2 separate regions of the Homo sapiens genome follow, and region 1 is linked to region 2. Evidence: fine-mapped expression QTL. A gene starts in region 2. The other region holds a variant in brackets. All regions are shown on one strand. Distances are from middle to middle. Region 1 overlaps HEATR4 (HEAT repeat containing 4). Region 2 holds the start of HEATR4 (HEAT repeat containing 4).

What was found. PIP is the estimated chance that this variant, and not a neighbour inherited with it, causes the effect.
Region 1: its variant is the best candidate, but not a certain one, in a credible set for the expression of HEATR4 in testis (GTEx, PIP 0.66).

Annotation. Positions count from the first base shown.
Region 1 is chr14:73,523,689-73,529,182 of GRCh38, reverse strand. The region is part of intron 2 of HEATR4 (HEAT repeat containing 4); the gene reads left to right. It also overlaps a transcript of ACOT1 not described here. Among named protein-coding and RNA genes, the nearest start is that of ACOT1, 11 kb to the left of the region's middle. The variant T/C (reference allele first, on the strand shown) is at 2,869.
Region 2 is chr14:73,556,073-73,561,325 of GRCh38, reverse strand. HEATR4 (HEAT repeat containing 4) reads left to right here and starts at 2,379. Exons shown (of 18, transcript NM_001220484.1): 1 at 2,379-2,575. RefSeq lists an enhancer at 1,378-1,547.

The DNA.
Region 1 (5,494 bases), 32 kb after region 2:
GGAGTTTCACCATGTTGGTCAAGCTGGTCTTGAACTCCTAACCTCAGATGATCCACACGCCTCAGCCTCCCAAAGTGCTGGGATTACACGCATGATCCACCACGCCTGGCCGATTGACTTAATTTTTTATGCTGTGTACAAAAGGACCCAGGACCTGCCACTCTGCTTTTGGTTCTAGAGGGCTATTTGTTGGAAGTGGGTGCTGCCTCATAATGCTGGTCACGTAATGTGTAAGTTTCAATAATAAGGAGCCTCCAAACTCCATTAATAAGTCCTTTCTTCCTTCTCTAAGCACCCTCTCTTTTAATTGCTGAGTACCCCATAGCCCTAAATTCTTCCCGAAGCGCTCAGTGCATCTAACTGTAGGACCCAGAGACTTGCCTTCTAAGGACAACAGTCCATCCTCTAAACTAATAATAACAATTCCTCACACATATATTTTAGTTTGCAAAGAACTTTCATACATGTTTCTGATTTTGAGCTTCATATCAATCAACACTAAATTAGAACAGGTATCAGACTCAATTTTCAGATTGGGAAACTACAGATTTTAAATTATTTGCCCAAGGTAACATGACTGGGAAGTGCACAATTTGGCCTTACACCTGTCCCGTGACTCCAAGGCAGACAAAGACAAGCCAGAACAAGCCTCTTTTGATCAGACCTAGTAATATTTTGTTCTGTCCCCATTCCTTTTCAAAACAGACCTATCATGTGTTCCCTTCCTTCTTAATAAGCCATCATATCAGATAATAACTATTCCTTAAGTTTTTTTTTTTTTTTTTTTTTTGAGATGAAGTTTCGCTCTTGTCGTCCAGGCTGGAGTCCAGTGGCGCGATCTTGGCTCACTGCAACCTCCGCCTCCCAGCTTCAAGCGATTCTGCCTCAGCCTCCTGAGTAGCTGGGATTACGGATGCCCACCACCACACCCGCTAATTTTTTGTATTTTTAGTAGAGATGGGGCTTCGCCATGTTGGCCAGACTGATTTCAAACTCCTGACCTCAGGTGATCTGCCCACCTCAGCCTCCCAAAGTGTTGGGATTACAGGCATGAGCCACCGCGCATAGCCTCCTTAAGAATTTCTAATAATTGATAATGGTAATATGGTATTCTTTCTGGGATGTTTGCATTGTAACTAAAGATTCTTTACGTCACAGGCTAAAGGGCATTTATCTGGGGACATCCTAAATCACTCCTTTTTTTTTTTTTTTTTTTTTTTTGAGATGGAGTTTTGCCCCTGTTACCCAGGCTGGAGTACGGTGGCAACCTCTGCCTGTCAGGTTCAAGGAACTCTCCTGCCTCAGCCTCCCAAGTAGCTGGGATTACAGGCACCTGCCACCATGACTGGCTAATTTTTTGTATTTGTAGTAGAGATGGGGTTTCGCCATGTTGGCCGGGCTGGTCTCGAACCCCTGATCTCAGGTGATCCACCTGCCTTGGCCTCCCAAAGTGCTAGGATTACAGGCATGAGCCATCCTGCCTGGCCCTGACTGTGTATTTTCATATAACCTGTCTTCAAGCTCACCAATTCTTTCTTCTGCTTGACCAATTCTGCTGTTGAGAGACTCCAATGCATTTTTTAGTCAACTTAATTTTTCAGCTCTAGAAGTGATGCTTGATTTTTTTTCTTTTGCGAAGTGAAAGCAAGTTTATTAGAGAAGTAAAGAAACAAAAGAATGGCTACTCCATAGGCAGAGCAGCCTTTCTGCTTGATTTTTGTTATTTCAATCTCTTTTTGAAATTTCTGATAGAATTCTGAATTTCTTCTCGGTGTTATCTCGAAGTTTGAGCTTCTTCAAGACTACTATTTTGAATTCCCTGTCTGGAAAGGTCACATATCTCTGTCACTCCTGGATTGGTCACTGGTGCCTTATTTAGTCCATTTGGTGAAATAATGTTTTCCTGGATGTTCTTGATGCTTGTGGATGGTCATCAATGTCTGGACATTGAAGAGTTAGGTATTTATTCCAAGTCTTTACAGTCTGGACTTATTTGTACCCATCCTCCTTGAGAAGGCTTTCTATATATTCAAAGGGGATTAAGTGCTGTGACTTAAGCCTACGGTCTCTGCAGCTGATGTATACCAGGGGGTGCCCTAAGCCTATGACCCCTGCAACTGTTGCCAACTCCTGGATACTCCTGTATCTTTGGTGGCCTTGGGTAAGATAAGGGAAAATTCCCCGGTTACCCAGGCAACATCTCTCACTTTGTCTCTTCTCTTTCCCCCAGTCAGGAATCTCTCTCCCCACTGGGCTGTCTGGAGTTGGGGGGAAGGGTGACATGAGCACTCCCATGGCCACCACAGATGGCAGTGCACTGGGTCACACCTGAAGCTTTGCAGACCAGTACAGTATTGGATCCTGCCCAAGGCCTGTGGCCAGAACTGCTTAGCTACCACTGATATTTACTCAAAGCCCAAGGGCACTTTAGTCAGCAGGTGGGGAATCCTGCCAGGATAAATCTGACCCATCAGAGCAGTGGATTCCCTTCTGGCGCAGGGTAGGTCTGGAAATGTAGCTTAGGAGCAAAGGCCTGGAATCAGGAGCCTCAGGATTCTGCCTGGTGCTTTATTTTCCTGTGGCTGAGCTGCTACTCAAAGTCTTCTGGACTTTGTCTTGCAACTTGAGTACTCTTCCCTCTCCTTTCCCCAAGTAGGAGTCTCTCCCTGAGCTGCCCTGTCTGGAGTTGGGGGAGGAATGATGCAGGCACTCCCTTGTTCACCACAGTTGGTGTCACACGCGGTCACACACACCCAAAGTCCACTGCCTCCATGACCAGTGCATCTCCAGGGTTTGCCTAAGGAATATAGTCCTTGTGACCTGACTGTCACTCATATGTATTCAGGGCCCCAGGCCACTTTGGTCAGC[T/C]GGTGGCAGAACCAGCTGGGACTCAGGTCTGTCCCACTCTACCTGAGGATTCTCCTCTGGCCCAGAGCTGATCTAAATGTGTCCTCTGTGGGTGCCAGCAGAATTCTGCTCAGTGTAGTGCTGTGCTGTGACAGGGCAGCAGTGAGTTCCAATGCAAAATCCCACACTCCTCTCGCTCCACCACATGCACAGATTCTCTCTCCAAGCTGTTGTGCCAGAGGTGAGGGAGGGGGGCATAGGCGATGCAGGACCGTCTTTCCCACCCTCTTCAGTGCCTCTTCTTGATACGATGTGAAAACCAGGTACTGTGATCACTCACCTGATTTTTTGTTTCTTATGAAGATGCTTTTTTTTTTTTTTTAAATAAGGAGTCTCACTCTGTCACCCAGGCTGGAGCGCAGTGGCACCATTTCGTCTCACTGCAACCTCTGCTTCCCAGGTTCAAGCAATTCTTCTGCCTCAGCCTCCCAAGTAGCTGGGATTATAGGCCCCCACCACCACGCCCAGCTAATTTTTGTATTTTTAGTAGAGATGGGGTTTCTCCATGTTGGCCAGGCCAGTCTTGAACTCTTGACTTCAAGTGATTTGCCCAATTTAGCCTCCCAAAGTTCTGGGATTACTGACGTGAGCCACCGCATCCGGCCTAAAGGTGCTTTCCTTGTGGGGACAGTTGTTCAGTTTGGTGTTCCTGCATGGAGACAATCGCTGGAGGGGTCTGTTTGGCCGTCTTGCTCTAGCCTTTCTATTTTCAGCCAGTGGGAGTAGCCACTGTTTCAGGAGAAAACATCATCTTGTGACCACCCTCTTTCTCTTAACTTGCCTTCATGAAGACGTTGCCTTCATGGTTGTGAAGAGATGAAGCAATTACATTTAGCCTTATGTGCAAAAAGTCCTGGAGTGATAGCATATTAATCATGTGTCACGTAATTTGAGGGAGGTTATTGATTCTGGCCTAATGGCATCTAGATGAAAGTTGAGCCTTTGCTGAGTGCTGTAGCTCACACCTGTAATCCCAACGCTTTGAGAAGCCAAGGCAGGCAGATTGTTGACCCCAGGAGTTTGAGACCAGCCTGGGCAACATAGTGAGACCCCATCTCTATTAAAAATAAAAAACAGATAGCTGGGTGTGGTGGCGCATGCACCTGTAGTCCCAGCTACTTGGGAGGCTGAAGTAGGAGGATTACTTGGGCCCAGGAGGTTGAGGCTGCAGTGAGCTATGATCGTGCCAGTGCTGCACTCCAGCCTGGGCGACAGAACAAGACCCTGTCTCAAAAAAACAAAACAAAAGAAAAAAAACACACAAAAAAGAACTTGCCCTTAACAGAAAGAAATACAATACGGTCACTTTTACACATGGAAGACAGTAAGAGAAATCATGCCCTAGGGAGAGAGGCTATGTGCTGGGTGTTAAGGAGTAAAGAGAAACAAGTCAGATCTGGTCTGCATGGGCACCTTGGACACCGGGCAGGAGTTGACACTAGCAGGATAGAAACATATGGAATAATGGTCTCTCCTTCATCCTTACACATAAGGAGGCCTACCTGTTCCTTGGAGAGGCAAGGCCAACAAAGTGAGTGGTAGGGAGTGGTGCTTGGGCCAAGGCCAGTGTGGCACGGAGGTTAAGTGCTCCAGAGTTGTGATCTAGTAGGCTAGATTTGAAACCTGACTCCTCTGCTTACGGGCTATGTGATCTGAAGCAATTTACCTACCTCTCTGAACCTCAGCTTCTTAAAATAGGAAAGGAAGATCATAATATCTTCCCTACGTAAAATCCTCAGCAAGGTTATTCCAAAACTATCATTATTAGGCCAAGGGAATGCTTCAAAAGGAAAACAAAACAAAACTAAACTAACATTAAATCTAAGCATTTGTTATCTACAGTGTTTGCCATGCTAGCTAAAATCTGGAAACAACCCATCCAATAATTCATGAAGAGTCAAAACCATTTACCTATTTGATAAAATACGTTACAGCTATAATATATATATATATATATATATATATTTTTTTTTTTTTTTTTTGAGACGGAGTTTTGCTCTTGTTGCCCAGGCTGGTGTGCAATGGCATGATCTTGGCTCACTGCAATCTCCCCCACCCTGGGTTCAAGCAATTCTCCTGCCTCAATCTCCCAAGTAGCTGGGATTACAGGCACATGCCACCGCGCCTGGCTAATTTTTTGTATTTTTAGTAGAGATGGGATTTCACCATGTTGGCCAGGCTGGTCTCAAACTCCAGACCTCAGGTGACCCACCCACCTCGGCCTCCCAAAGTGCTGGGATTACAGGCGTGAGCCACTGCGCCCGGCCTACAGCTATTAAATATTTTAACAATAAAAACTATGTAGCAATAGGTGTGCTGGATGACTCTGAAAGACAGAAGAAATGGGAGACATGGTCACTGGGCAATGGAATTAGAGTCTCAAATATTTAACAATGCGAGGTATCATAGGATTAACAGTTAAAGTAAGTGGTACAGACCAGGAGGAATTTATAAACTTGGGTATGACCTGGTGGCCTGGATAGGTCAAGAAAGAGTTATGGAGCAGCACAAATTGAGCTGGGCCTGGAAATTGGATAGAATTTGTGTCAAGTACGAAAGGCCATTTCATGTAGAGGACACAGAAGGA
Region 2 (5,253 bases):
GGCGAGATCTTGGCTCACTGCAACCTCTGCCTCCTGGGTTCAAGAGATTCTCCTGCCTCGGTCTCCTGAGTAGCTGGGATTACAGGCGCCTGCCACTACGCCTGGCTAATTTTTGTATTTTTAGTAGAGATGGAGTTTCACCATGTTGACCAGGCTGGTCTTGAACTTTTGACCTCAGGTGATCCACCCTCCTCGGCCTCCCAAAGTGCTGGGATTACAGGCCTGAGCCACCACGCCCAGCCCATTTCATTCCTTTTTAAGGCTGAATAACATTCTGTTGTATGTATCTTCCACATTTTGTTTATCCATTCATTCACTGATGGACATTTGGGTTCTTTCCACCGTTTGGCTATTGTGAGTATGCTGCTATGAACATGGGTATACAAATATCTGTTAAAGTCCCTGCTTTCAATTCTTTTGGATATGTACCCAGAAGTAGAATTGCTGGATCACATAGTAATTCTATATTTAATTTTTTGAGGAACCTTCAACAGGGTTTTGATTTATTAGAAACAGGGTCTCCCTCTGTCACTGAGGCTGGGGTGCAGTAGTGCCATCATAGCTCACTGCAGCCTCAAACTCCTGGGCTCAAATGATCCTCCTGCCTTAGCAGGGTTATAATGTTTAATTTTTTTAGTATTTAATTTTCTTTTTTTTTTTTTTTGAGATGGAGTCTTGCTCTGTCGCCCAGGCTGGAGTGCAGTGGCCCAATCTCGGCTCACTGCAAGCTCCGCCTCCCGGGTTCATGCCATTCTCCTGCCTCAGCCTCCAAGTAGCTGGGACTACAGGCGCCTGCCACCACGCCTGGCTAATTTTTTTGTATTTTTAGTAGAGATGGGGTTTCACCGTGTTACCCAGGATGGTTTAAATCTCCTGACCTCGTGATCCGCCCAACTTGCCTCCCAAAGTGCTGGGATTATGGGCGTGAGCCACAGCGCCTGGCTCAGTCTTTACTTTTCATAACAGAAAACGTACCCTCTGCTTTTTATGGGGGTCTAACCATCTGAGTGCAGCTTGAGCTCAAGTGCTAAAGTCCATATTCAGGTTGGTCAGCAGCAGCAGTCTTGCTTGGAACCAAGAGATGGACCACCTGAATAGCATGACCTGGGTCAACGAGACAGAGCCTTAGGCCCAGAAATCTTTCCTGCTGTCAGGATAAATTAGTTTGTTTCACAAAGGGACTCTTGAAGATCAGAATTTCTGTATCTGTAAGACTTCTATGACTTAAAGAATTTCTGTACGTGTGAAATTATACTATTAGAAATACAAGATTGAAGAGTCTCCTTGTAAAAGCTAGTGTTAATGGCTAATAATCTAGCCAGGATTTAGAGATCAGGGAAAATGGGATTGAACTGTGTGGGCAAAGGAGATTAAGTAGCAGTGGAGGAGCTGAAAGGGGAATGGAAAAGTCGACGGACAGCTTCTACTTTACCATCTGTTTTATCAGCCTGGTAATCTGACGCCTGCCAGAACTATGTGGTCATGTGTTCCCTGCTTTGCCTCTTTCTCAGGATTTATAAACCCTTGTGGTGGGAGAATATGGAGCTGCATATATCTAGAGGGTTTTTTTATTTTTATCTTTTGAGACTGCACTTCACTCTTGCTGCCCAGGCTGGAGTGCAATGGCCTGATCTTGGCTCACTGCAACCTCTGCTTCCTGGGTCCAAGCGATTCTCCTGCCTCAGCCTCCCGAGTAGCTGGGATTACAGGCATGCGCCACCAGGCCCAGGTGATTTTCTTTTTAAATTTTCTATTTTTAGTAGAGATGGGGTTTCACCATGTTGGTCAGGCTGGTCTCTAACTCCTGACCTCAGGTGATCCGCCACCTCAGCCTCCCAAAGCGCTGAAATTGCAGGCGTGAGCCATCGCGCCTGGCTGAGGTTTATTTTTCAAAGAATGACCAAGAGGCTAGGTGTGGTGGCTCACAGTTGCAAATCCCAGCACTTTGGGAGGCCAAGGCGGACACATCACTTGAGGTCAGGAGTTTGAGAACAGCCTGTCCAACATGGTGAAACCCCATCTCTACTAAAAGTACAATTAGTGGGGCATGGTGGTGTGGCCTGTAATGGGAGGCTGAGACAGGAGAATTGCTTGAACCTGGGAGGCACAGGTTGCAGTGAGCCGAGATCGCACCACTGCACTCCAGCCTAGGCAACTGAGTGAGACTGTCTCAAAAAAGAAAAAAGACCAAAAACTCCATGAAACTACCATTCAATAAATAATCAATAAATAAGATGCAATTTCTCAAAGCTCAGTTTACAAAGAAGGAAATTTAATAAATGGTTGAAGATATACCCCCGACTGAACCCACAAGTTCTCTGAGTAGACTCATGGAATTCTAAAGAGTTGGTTGCTTGGAGACTGATAGAAACAGCTTTGGAACCTAAGAAACCAAGGAAGGCTTAAGATGCAGAACCTTGCTTCTCTCTGAGGACTGCCTTTTAGGAGGCCATTTGGAAAGTAATTTTGAAACACTGCTCCTTTGCCAGTATCTGAAAGGTGCTGGATGGTGTCAGCTGGAAGATGAGGGGCAACCTGAGGTAGCTGAAAAAACTTTGGATTAGGTGTCAAAAGGGTCAGTACTACTTTAGATACCAAGCAGTATGGTGATCTTAATGATTTCTCTTCTCTCTGGGCCCCAGTTTTGGGATTTATAAAATCAGGACATTAGGCCTGGTGCAGTGGCTCATGCCTGTATTCCCAGCATTTTGGGAGGCCAAGGTGGGAGGACTGTTTGAGTCCAGGAGTTCAAGACCAGCCTGAGCAACATAGTGAGACTCTATCTCTACAAAAAAAAAAAAAAAAAAAAAAATTTAACCGAGAGTGGTGTGCTATGTGCCTATGCTCCCAGCTATGTGGGAGGATTGCTTGAGCCCAGGAGGTCAAGGCTGCAGTGAGTCATGATCACGCCACTGTACTCCAGGAGAGTGAGACCCTGTCTCAAAAAAAAAAAAACAAATCAAGGCATTAGACCAGGTCATCTTTATAGCAGAGTTTCCAGAGTAATCTCTGGAGATAGCTGTATAGCTGTGTGAGTGCATGGTAAAAAATTAGAAAGTAGAGGGGAAAAAATGAGGGGAACTTTTTGAGGGCAAAAAGGGAGAAAGGGGGACTTGAAACAAGCCAGGTTAAGCAGCTGTTCCCTAATCCCACTCTCCCCACTAACCAGGCTTCCTTCATACACCCCACTGACACCCTTTGGGCTGTGCTTTCTTTAAATGTATTGTGTATTAAACCTGAGAGCTTGTGAAAATGCAGATTTCTAGGCCTCACTTGCAGGCTACTGAATCAGCATTCTGGGAGTAGGACACAAGAGTCTGATGTAAAAGGTTCTTTACCCATATCTATTCCAGGCATAGTCCCAGCATTTCTGGAGGCCAAGGCAGGAAGATCACTTGATTCCAGGAGTTTGAAACCAGCCTGGACAACATAGTAAGACCCTGTCTCTACAAAAAAAAGTTTTAAAACATTAGCCAGGCATGGTGGTGCACACCTGTGGTCCCAGCTACTGGGGACGCTGAGGCAGGAGGATTGCTTGAGCCTGGGAGGCAAGGCTGCAGTGAGCCATGACTGTGCCACCGCACTCCAGCTTGGGTGACAGAGTGAGGCCCTGTCTCAAACATAAATAAATAAACAAAAAACTGTATCTAACAAACACCACCCCAGAAGCTGACTGCACACTCTTGGACTCCACCTCAGAACTTCAGAATCCAAATCTGTTGGTAGAGATGAGAGTATTATTTTTTTAAAGCTTTCAGAAGATACTGATACTAAGGCTTATTGCTTTTTAGTCTTTTCTTTCAAGGCAGTTTCCTCTATTTTAATAACAAGGGAGAATGCAAGATATTACTCCTTTTAGCACATGTTACTCAACCTACTTTGACCACTTGTACAGGATAAAGGTATCAGACCAGAGGGTGAGGGTAAGCGACTGATAAGCAAACAGAAAAGTGGAACTAAATTTGGAATCTCTGAGATACTACCCAGTTTGAGTTGAGTTCTGTATTCATAAAATATTAGAGGCAGGAGAGGAATTTAGTCCAACTCCTACGTTTTCCAGCTGGGGATCTAGGAAGTTCATCAGGTTTTAACTAGAGGCATGTGGCCTAACCCTTCCAACCCCATTCCTCCCCTTCTAGCCCAAGTTCCTAGAAATGCAGATAATGCTGGTGGGTTGCTCATTCCAGGGCCTGGTCTGCAGTTATGCCAGGATTGACTTAGTCAATTTTTTATGCTGTCTATGTACAAAAGGACCCCGGACCTGCCACTCTGCTTTTGGTTCTAGAGGGCTATTTGTTGGGAGTGGGGTGCTGCCTCATAATGCTGGTCACGTAATGTGTAAGTTTCGATAATAAGGAGCCTCCAAACTCCATTAATAAGTCCTTTCTTTCTTCTCTAAGCACCCTCTCTTTTAATTGCTGAGTACCCCATAGCCCTAAATTCTTCCCGAAGCGCCCAGTGCATCTAACTGTAGGACCCAGAGACTTGCCTTCTAAGGACAACAGTCCATCCTCTAAACTAATAATAACAATTCCTCACACATATATTTTAGTTTGCAAAGAACTTTCATACGTTTCTAATTTTGAGGTTCATATCAATCAACACTAAATTAGAACAGGTATCAGACTCAATTTTCAGATTGGGAAACTACAGATTTCAAATTATTTGCCCAAGGTAACATGACTGGGAAGTGCACAATTTGGCCTTACACCTGTCCCGTGACTCCAAGACAGACAAAGACAAGCCAGAACAAGCCTCTTTTGATCAGACCTTGTGTAACATTTTGTTCTGTCCCCATTCCTTTTCAAAACAGACCTATCATGTGTTCCCTTCCTTCTTAATAAGCCATCATATCGGATGATAATAACTATTCCTTAAGTTTTTTTTGTTTTTTTTTTTTGAGAAGAAGTTTCACTCTTGTCACCCAGCCTGGAGTGCACTGGTGTGATCTTGGCTCACTGCAACCTCCGCCTCCTGGGTTCAAGCGATTCTCCTGCCTCAGCCTCCTGAGTAGCTGGGATTACGGGTGCCTGCCACCATGCCTGGCTAATTTTTTGTATTTTTAGTAGAGATGGGGTTTCGCCATGTTGGCCATGCTGCTCTTGAACTGCTGACCTCTGGTGATCTGCCTGCCTCAGCCTCCCAAAGTGTTGGGATTACAGGCGTGAGCCACCGCACCCAGCCTCCTTAAGAATTTCTAATAATTGATAATGGTAATATGGTATTCTTTCTGGGATGTTTGCATTGTAACTA